Linked DNA regions of Homo sapiens. The protein of the gene in region 2 purifies or fractionates together with the protein of the main gene of each other region. This does not show direct contact. Each region holds a gene or a part of one and is shown on either strand. Other genes may lie near its edges.

Evidence for each region. Proteins that work in one complex are often made in the same cells at the same time.
Region 1: the proteins of SNW1 (region 2) and DHX8 purify together in Homo sapiens (affinity purification with mass spectrometry; 4 studies listed by BioGRID and IntAct, with this or other methods). This does not show direct contact.

What each region holds. Positions count from the first base shown.
Region 1 is NC_000017.11:43,521,076-43,526,940, forward strand, and holds the end of DHX8 (ATP-dependent RNA helicase DHX8), read left to right. Parts: intron 1-293; coding exon 294-490; intron 491-971; coding exon 972-1,151; intron 1,152-2,552; coding exon 2,553-2,772; 3' UTR 2,773-4,595; downstream 4,596-5,865.
Region 2 is NC_000014.9:77,719,655-77,724,352, reverse strand, and holds part of SNW1 (SNW domain-containing protein 1), read left to right. Parts: intron 1-1,075; coding exon 1,076-1,172; intron 1,173-3,524; coding exon 3,525-3,642; intron 3,643-4,698. UniProt on the Homo sapiens protein: Involved in pre-mRNA splicing as component of the spliceosome. As a component of the minor spliceosome, involved in the splicing of U12-type introns in pre-mRNAs.

The DNA.
Region 1 (5,865 bases), on a different chromosome or scaffold from region 2:
CCTCAGCCTCCAGAGCAGCTGGGATTACAGGCGTGCGCCACCGTGTGCTGCTAATTTTTGTATTTTTAGTAGAGACAGGGTTGCACCATGTTGGCCAGGCTGGTCTCAAACTCCTGGCCTCAAGTGATCCTCTTGCCTCAGTTTCCCAAAATGCTGGGATTACAGGCCTGAGCCATCATGCCTAGCCTGATGTGGACACTTTTGATAGGGTCTTGTAGGGCTCCCTAGAATTGCTCCATGTTCAGTTAGTAGCTGTTGAGTCGGAAATGTTCCTCTGTCCCACTGCTTGGCAGGATAAACAAGCCCTTGCAGATCAGAAGAAGGCCAAATTCCACCAGACTGAAGGGGACCACCTCACCCTGCTAGCTGTGTACAACTCCTGGAAGAACAACAAGTTCTCCAACCCATGGTGCTATGAGAACTTTATCCAGGCTCGTTCCCTGCGCCGGGCCCAGGACATTCGCAAGCAGATGTTAGGCATAATGGACAGGTAAGCTGGAATCTGATGACTCTGCATGTTTGAGTTGAACCACCTTGAGTATCATGTCTTTTCATCTCTGTGTGTACCTATAAAGCTATAGGCACCTTTTCTCTTGCTCCTCACATAACCCTTTTCCTCCAGCTTTTCCATCTTTGTTATATTCCTTCTCCCCAAGTAAGGGTATGCCTGAGAATTACCTCAGATACCTAAGAGGAAGATTATCTGTTAGTTGTTGAAAAAAATGCTCTTTGTTTGCAACCCTCTGGAACATTATTACTGTGGAATTGAATACCTGTCTAAACAAAGTGTCTGTCTCTGAGTGCCTCCGTCTGCCCACTGTGTAGAGCTGCCTCTGTAGTACACTTAGGGCTGGAAGGAAGGTCCTGGTGACTACTCTGGGCACCCCAAGATGGATGTGTTGGGCACTGTCATTGTGAAAATAGACCTGTGAAAGCTGAGTGGGCTCATATCTTTTGTCCTATCTTGATAGACACAAGCTGGATGTTGTTTCCTGTGGCAAGTCCACAGTCCGAGTGCAGAAGGCCATCTGCAGTGGGTTCTTCCGTAATGCTGCCAAGAAAGACCCGCAGGAGGGTTACCGGACACTGATCGACCAGCAGGTGGTCTATATCCATCCTTCCAGTGCCCTCTTCAACAGACAGCCAGAATGGTAGGTGGACATGTCCCAGGGTCTAGGGGCTTTTCTGGGCAGAGAAAAACCTGTAAATTTCCTGGTATTTTGTGATTGTGTCTTCACTACTCCCAGTATGTCCTAGTATAACACTGCTTGCCTTTCTAGAGCAGCAGAAACCTGAATTAGGCACAATGTATCAAACCCTATGAGAGAATTAAAATCATAGGGGTGAGACCTAGTTGAAAAAAAAAATTGTGGTTTAAAAAACTACGTAGTGGCCAGGCACAGTGGCTCATGCCTGTAATCCCAGCACTTTGGGAGGCTGAGGTGGGCAGATCAGCCGAGGTCGGGAGTTCAAGACCAGCCTGACCAACATGGAGAAACCCTGTCTCTACTAAAAATACAAAATTAGCCAGGTATGGTGGCGCATGCCTGTAATCCCAGCTACTTGGGAGGCTGAGACAGGACAATCGCTTGAACCCAGGAGGTGGAGGTTGCAGTGAGCCGAAATCACCCATTGCACTCCAGCCTGGGCAACAAGAGCGAAACTCCATCTCAAAAAAAAAAAAAAAAAAAAACCAACTACCTAGGGGCTAGGCATGGTGGCTCACGTCTGTAATCCCAGCACTTTGGGAGGCCGAGGCAGGTGGATCACCAGAGGTCAGGAATTCCAGGCCAACCTGACCAACATAGTGAAACCATGTCTCTACTAAAAATACAAAGTTAGCCAGGCGTGGTGGCAGGCACCTGTAATCCCAGCTACTTGGGAGGCTGAGACATGAGAATAGCTTGAACCCGGGAGGCAGAGGTTGCAGTGAGCTGAGATTGTGCCATTGTACTCCAGCCTGGGAGACAGAGTGAGACTCCGTCCCAAAAAAAAAAAAAAAAAGAAAGAAAAAAACAACTACCTAGTGATGTAGTTTAAAAAAAAAAACTTGTTTTAAAGTAGCATTTTTAAAAAATTGGACTCTATCTAGAACCCTAATATAAAACTGATTTAAAACCACCATGTTATCACAGTAGAAGGGTTAGAAATGTGGCTCCTTGCATGTTTGGCCTTCTCCATCCCTTGTGGCAGTGTGAGGCCCCTCTTCAGAGCCCTAGAATTCTGTGGAAACATTCTAATAAACATCCTCACATTTTATAGAGCAAGAAACAGATTAGAGAAGGGATGTGATTGGCTCCATGTCACTTAACTAGTTAGAGCCAGAGCCAGGACTAGAATACATTCTCCTGAGACCTTTCTTGTGGTTAGAGGTGTGCGGGTGCTTCAGTATTGGGGTGTGGCTGTCATAAACAGACTGCAGTCTTATAGGTGTCAGGCAGGAGAGGTAATAGTATAAAATGTAAGCTCAGCTGAGGCCTACTAGGGACCAGGTTGACTGTAGAGTGGGGCCTATATCCAGAGGCTTGAGTACTATCTCTGTCCCCCCTCAGGGTGGTGTACCATGAGCTGGTGCTCACCACCAAGGAATACATGCGTGAAGTTACCACCATCGACCCTCGGTGGCTTGTGGAGTTTGCCCCAGCCTTCTTCAAGGTCTCAGACCCAACTAAGCTAAGCAAACAGAAGAAGCAACAGCGTCTTGAACCCTTGTACAACCGCTATGAGGAACCCAATGCCTGGAGAATATCTCGAGCTTTCCGACGGCGCTGAAAGGCAAGATTGTTCCTTTGCCTCTCCAGCAGCAGTAGCCAGGGCTTGGACTTATCGATGACAGGCTGGTCCTGAGGATACAGCTGTCCCGTGACTGACTGTCTTAACTGAGCATTTTCTCAACTCGACTCTCATTTCTTCCCTGCTGGTAAAATAGAAACAGGGATTTAAACCTGGCTTTGGCAAGAGCCTGCAGCCTCCATCACCCCAAGTCCTTGGGCCCAGTTGGGAGCTCATATCTAACACAGAGACACATTGCATCAACTTCAAGAAAGGGACAATTTGTGCAGCTCCAGGATGGGAAGGTGGAGTGGGTGAGCATCTTGTGCAGGGACATGGTGAGTGCCCTGATGCCCCAGCTAGCAGGAGCTACTGTGCTCATCTAAAGTGTTTGCCCCACTTCCCACCCCGTCTCCAGCCCCTGTACTTTGGCTTGACCTCGTGGAAATATTTATTTTCTTAAGGAAACAAAAATGGTTTTCTGTGACTGTTTTCTTTTAGCCGAAAGGTTAGGATATTGGCCTGGGCTCAGGGTGAGGGAGATTTAGTATCTGTGCTCTGGCACACATGATGAGAATCCCCTGAATCCCCTGAAACCAGAACGCAGGGCCTCTTTGCGCTCGGAAACGACGTACAACCCAGACTTCCAGCCTTGTCTTTCAGCATCAGCACTAGCCGGGCCGTGCTGGGGGATCACCCGATGATCAACCATGTCCTCTCCACAGAGCACTTCAGTCTGGAGGCCTGAGTGGCTACAGATGGCACATATTAAATACAGAAGGTTTCCCCTTGCTCCCTCCACCTCCCACATTCGCAATGTGCAGCATGTCCCATTTCCTTTTGAAACATACTAAGTAACAACACAGCTTTTATTTTATTTTGTTTTTATTTTTTTCCCCTGAGGTCCTGGATGGACTTTAACAAAGGGATTTTATGGTCAAAACCTCCCTTTCCCCACTCCAAACAGAAAACAAACATAACACCTCTCCTCTCAGCTGGTTTGTGCTGCCAGTATCTGTGCTGCAGGGCTTGTTCTTAGTGGTTTTTTCCTAGCACTTGCTTGGAGAATAGCCACCTCCTTGTGCCCTCCTCACAGCTCCTGAGGAGGGTTTTTTTTTTTTCTTCCCATAGAGATGGGTTCCCACTGTGCTGCCCAGGCTGCTCTCCAATCCCTGGCGTCAAGCAATCCTCCTGCCTCTGCCTCCCAAAGCGCTGGGATTACAGTTGAGAGCCACTGTCCTCTGCACTGAGGAGGCTCCTTACCTGGCGGAACATCAGGCAGGTCTTGCCAGGCCAGGTTTCGGAACTTACGGAAAGCTGGTCTGGATGTAGTGCTTGTAGAGAAGCTTCTGAGAGATTGGGCACATCCTGTTACGTTGCTGCTTCTCCTGTCCTTATGTTATTAGTAAGTTCTGAAGTGATGTAAATGCTAGAACTACTGTAGAACTGTATGCCAGACACTAAGAGAGACTATGTAACATTCCAGGATATAAAGGAATGTATGTTGTCACTGGGCAGCAAACCACACCCTAAAGACAATTCAGAAAGAGTCCGAGGGAGAGGAATATAGGCCAGGCAATCTGCTGGCTGCAGATCCCTGCCCCTTCATTAAGCTGAGTGCCTCCTGATTCTGTCTGAGTATTCGCCTTTGTAAGCCCAGGCCAGTAATCAAGGGGCAGGGCATTGTTGTGTGTTAACCTTGAAGGCCTTCTGGGGAGAGACAGTACAGGGACCTCAAATGAAACCAAAGGGGAAACGGGGACTGGGCACCCACCTCCCCAATCTCGTTTTGTTTTTGTTTTTGTTAAGACAGGATCTTGCCATCTTGCCTAGGCTGGCATCAAACTCCTGAGCTCAAGTGATCTTCCTGCCTCAGCCTCCTGAGTAGCTGGGACTACAGGTGCATGCCACCACACCTGGCTCCCAGTCCTAATTCCAGCCTAAATTTTCCCCATTCAGAAACACTCCTGGATATAGTGGCCCAGCCTGTCCTGACTGAGTGCCCAGCACTGACAATGTTGACACCTGGGGAGGGAGGGTTGGGTTTCAAGCTGAGGTTGAAAAGGGATGTTGAATGGGCTAAGGATAAGAGACAGCAGGGTTCGTTATCTTTTCTGGCTCAGGTGGAGGAAAAAGAAGGATCCCCATTCTGTGGGTGTTCCTTGACCATCTCTCTACGCTAGAGCTGAGGTCACTTCTCTGCTATGACAACATAGCTGGGTTCTGACCTTTTGACCATCAGGAAAGCAATGTCAGCAGCTGAGCTGAGCCTGCTCTGAGGGAGAAGGGGGGGGTCCTGTCCAGATGCAGAAGGGGAGCTTGCCTGCTGCTCTCACACAATGGAGCCCTTGTTTCTCTTCCTTGAACCAGTATTTCCCAAGATTGAGTGACAGCCCAGGAGAGGATGTGGGTCTCATGCAGAGAGCTGGGATCTTCTTGGCCATTAAAGTATATTGTTCACCCCCACCCCGCGAGAACCAAGCTCAGGAGTTGCCTGCCTCTGCACACATGCTGAGTGTGCTGTTTGTGTATATGGCAGGACCGTCCCTATGGGGCATGTGTGAGCTCCGCAGCTGGGTCAGGCTCCTCGGTCCAGGTTTACTTCATCCCGCCTGGACGTGATTTGGCTTTGACTGTCTCTCCTGCAGCCCAAAGCACTTCCTCCCTGTGGTTGCTGTAGCTGTCTCATTGGAGCAGTGCCTCTCCAAGTTTGAGGATTTGAACAAAGAACTGGGACTGGTGACTTGTTAATGAACAGTTCAGAGGGCAGAGGGCCATCATCTCAGCTTGTGGAGACCTTTCTTTCCCTGGATGCTGCTTCTCAGCTAACTCCCTCTCTCTTCGTGTGTGTACTCGGCCTTCAGGGTTTCCACCGATTTTTACACCTTCTTCCCACCACGATAGCTTGGCTTTAATGTGGAATTAAATTATATATTTTTAAAACCTGTTTTTAAAATTTTGTTTCTTGCACTAAATTATGTCAGTACATTGATATTTTGTGTTTCTAGGAAGAAGTAATGTTGCCTTTTATTTGTGGGTAGTAGTCGAGGGGCATCCCTTCCTGCAAGGGATGGTCTCAGGTTGGTGCTGGGC
Region 2 (4,698 bases):
TTGCAAAATAGCTAGAAGATTTAGAATGTTCCCAACACAAACAAATGTTTGAGGTGATGGATATCCTAATTACCCTGATTTGATTATTACACATTTTGTTCATGTATCAAATATATATACCCCATAAATATGTATAATGATTATATATCAAAAATAAATTTTAAAAGCAATTAACATTGATAAATTTGCTTTATCACATATTTGCCCATCTTTCTGTCCATCTGTCTGTCCGATTTACTGCATTGCATTTCAAAGTAAGTTGAAGACAGCAATACATTTTACCCTTAAATATTTTAGCCGCATGCTTGATTCTAGAATTCACATTCAAAAATTAAACTAATATCATTTATTAGACTTAAATTAATTGCAAGTAAGGTTTAAAAGGCTGAGTGTGACTACAAAGAAGTTTGGAATTTTCTAAGGTTAAAAAATATTCTCTTGTTCAGAATATTGGCTGGGTGCGGCAGATCACTTGAGGTCAGGAGTTTGAGACTAGCTTGGTGAAACTCCATCTCTACTAAAAATAAAAAATTAGCCCGGCATGGTGGTGCACACCTGTAATCCCAGCTACTTGGGAGGCTGAGGCAGGAGAATCGCTTGAACCCGGGAGGCAGAGGTTGCGGTGAGCTGAGATCGCGCCACTGCATTCCAGCCTGGGCAGCAAGAGCGAAACTCCGTCTCAAAACAAACAAAATACTAATGGGGCTGAGTGCAGTGGCTCACACCTGTGACTCCAGCACTTTGGGAGGCCTAGGTGGGAAGATCACTAGAGCCTGGAGTTTGAGACCAGCCTCGACAACATAAGTGGGACCCCATCTTTACAAAAAATTTAAAAATTAGCCAGGCATGGTGGCACACATCTGTGGTCCCAGGTACTCGGGAGGATGAGGCAGGAGGATCACTTGAATCCAGGAGGTAGTGGCTGCAGTGAACCATGTTCATGCTACTACACTCCAGCCTGGGTGACAGAGTGAGATGCTGTCTCTTTTTAAAAAATTATATATATACACACGTGTACACGTATGCACACATATAATACATATTACAGTGAAGTACTTTTCAACTGTTCACACAGAGGATGGGGAGGCACGTGAGAGGGATGAAATCCGGCATGACAGGCGAAAAGAGAGACAGCATGACCGGAATCTTTCCAGGGCAGCTCCTGATAAGAGGTAGGTGTTATTTAAGATGTGTACCAATCATGGTGGCCGGGCGCAGTGGTTCACCCCTGTAATCCCAGCACTTTGGGAGGCCAATGCGGGCGGATCACGAGGTCAGGAGATCGAGACCATCCTGGCTAACACGATGAAACCCTGTGTCTACTAAAAGTACAAAAAATTAGCCGGGCATGGTCGTGGCAGGCGCCTGTAGTCCCAGCTACTTGGCAGGCTGAGGCAGGAGAATGGCGTGAACCCGGGAGGTGGAGCTTGCAGTGAGCCGAGATCACGCCACTGCATTCCAGCCTGGGCGACAGAGCGAGACTCCATCTCACAAAAAAAAAAAAAAAAAAAAAAGATATGTACCAATCATGAAGAGTGGCCTTTTTGTACCTTTTAGAGCAGAGTTTTAGTCCACTAAGATCAGTTTTGCTTCTCTCCCTTTCTTCTTTAGTTTGATAACTTAATAAATTAGCACTTAATTTTCTTGTACTTAACTACTTTGTCTTAGCTCTAGTTGACTGTCTTTGGAATTAATCTTCCATCACTTAAGTCAGAATTGAGAATGATGGGAATATAGAAAACGGAATCGAGATCAGATTTTTGAAAAGGATGTAGTAGTAAATTTGGACTGTTATAGTCCGTTCTTTTTCTACCTCAAATGGTGAGATAAATGGATTATGTGCCTCTTTAGACAGGAAATAAGCTTTCATGCTTTTATTGAGATCATTTTATATGCATAGTACTGCATCTAGTACAATTGAGGAGAAGAGCAGTTTTGAAAGAAGTAGAAAATCAGCTCATTTTTAGGAGTAGTTTAACTTACAGTTCAGAAAGACAGAGCTATCCATAAAATAATTTGAGAAAATTTGCAAAGCACTCTTAGTAAGTATAAACGTATAGAACAAACTAAATATATATATGAGGGCATAGAGTAAAGTAGGAATTGGGGAAGTTTATGGCTCACCAAAGGCTGAGGACTAAAAGTTCTGAAAAGTAGAGGGAACGCTGCAATACTAAGGTGGAATTCTGAGTGAGGGTTAAATGCAAATATAGAATATTTTCTTCCCAAATGAACAGTTTTCTGTGCTCTGATCATCCCATGAGCCTAATACATTTTTCAAGTCATATTTTAAACACAAAAAAGAGGCCGGGCACAGTGGCTGACACCTGTAATCCCAGCACTTTGGCAGGCCAAAGCACGCGAATCACTTGAGGTCAGGAGTTCAAGACCAGCCTGGCCAACATGGTGAAACCCCATCTCTACTAAAAATGCAAAAATTAGCTGGGTGTGGTGGCACATGCCGGTAGTCCCAGCTACTCGAGAGGCCGAAGTGGGAGAATCACTTGAACCCTGGAGGCGGAGGTTTCAGGGAGCCAAGATCGTGCCACTGCATTCCAGCCTGGGCGACAGAGTGAGACTCCGTGTCATAAAAAATAAAAAATAAAAAAATAAAAATAAATAAGCATGAAAAAGATTCCTGCTGGTATTAATTGGCATATTTCATCTCCCTGGATAAATGATGTCATGGAGAAGCAAAGACTCTTACTCTTGAGAGTTGAGGGTAAAGTACATGTAGAAGGAGGAGCAAAGTGTGAAAGTGTTTAATTAATGACAGTCTTGGTTAGTAATTCCTAAGTTGTAAAAGTTACAATGGCTCTGTGGATAAATTGGGCCCTCAAAACGAGTAAAGTGGCTATCAGAATTGACAACATAGAAAAGCTGTGAAATTGTAACTGGATGAAAATCAAACAGCCTATAGAAATCATTTTGTGACCTGAGTTTTTAGTAAAACAAGTAATGACAGTTACCATGGTTTCATTGGGATGTAGGTTGCATATATAATGCAACAGCCAGGAAACCAAATTAATCTGAATGTCAAAAATCATACTAATTCAGTCATTGACATGTTTTCCTCAAAATTCTAGTGGGATAAAATTACTAAATGTGGTTAGATAAAAGAGCTGTTTCTAGCTTATTTAAAATGTTTCGTGTGCTACATCTAAATTGTATCCACTTCCCCAACCCCCAAACCATCATATAATGATAGTAAATATAGACCATAGCAATTTTATATCTCAGCATGGTTGTAAGGTGATTGCTTATATTAAAGAATTCCATGTCAACGAATCTGTTAGATGTTCTTTTGAGCTAACAGGACGTCCTAATTGTAAAACTCTCCCTCTAATCTGAAATGCTTTATAAGGGCTGCCAGCTTGATTATGTATCATCAAGGAATATATGTTCACAAGATGTGAATGTGACATATTCACATCCTTTGTTTCTGAGATTGGTTGTATTTCTATTGAACATATTCAGCTTGTCTATAAAGAGTTTTCAGTTAGTGATGTCGTATTTCAAAATAGGTCGAAACTTCAGAGAAATGAAAATCGGGATATCAGTGAAGTTATTGCTCTCGGTGTTCCTAATCCTCGGACTTCCAATGAAGTTCAGTATGACCAAAGGCTCTTCAACCAATCCAAGGTACAAGTTTAGGAACAGCATATTGTGTGTGTTGATGTGAATACCTATCCTCAGGGAAACGAAAATTAACATACTTTACATTTGGATGTAAATGCCAGCATGATGACAAAAAAATTGGAAGTTGTATGTTGAAACTTGAGACAAGATGAAACAGTTCTGATTTTAACTTCTTATAGTGGGCTGAGATTTGAGACACTAGGAGAAGAAAGAAATTAGGTGATTAAAAACTTGGTGTTGTGGTATGTCAACCTTTTGTTTCTAAAATAGAACCAGGGAGGCCAGGCATGGTGGCTTTTGCCTGTAATCCCAACACATTTGGAGGCCGAAGCGGGCAGATCACCTGAGGTCAGGAGTTCACAACCAGCCTGGCCAACATGGTGAAACCCCATCTCTACTAAAAATACGAAAACTAGCCAGGTGTGGTGGTGCACGCCTGTAATCCCCACTACTTGGGAGGCTGAGGCACGAGAATTGCTTGGTGAGCCAAGATTGTGCCACTGCACTCTAGCCTGGGTGACTGAGACTCTATCTCAAAAAAATAAAAGAGTCAGTGTCCTACAAAAGTGCCTCTTGGGTTTTTTTGTTGTTGATTTTTGGATTTTTCTTTTAATGCTATAGAAATATATCAATTTGGGATTCTTTTAAAAATGAAGCTGTAAAACGGGATTAAAGTACTAGGCTGGCTGTCAGGAAATCTGATTTCTAGTACCAATTGCCATTAGCTAACTAGGACACTTTAAGCCTGGGAAAACACACGCGGGCGCATGCGCACACACAAGAATACAGAAGTGTAAGTTCTACTGGAAAGTAGAGTGGGAAACTTAATTATGACTTGGAGGTTTTAAGTAAGCTCTTCTAAGTGATAATTTATTAGATGCATTTTATATTCTTGGCATTGTTCTAAGTCTTGTTATTATCTCAATTCTTACAAAAATCCTATGAAATAATACTATTATCTCTTATGTTATAGATGAGGAAATTGAAACACAGGTTTAGCTTGTGACTGATGGAATTAAGATTCAAACTGGGTGTCTTGATTTCAAAGTTTTTTTTGTT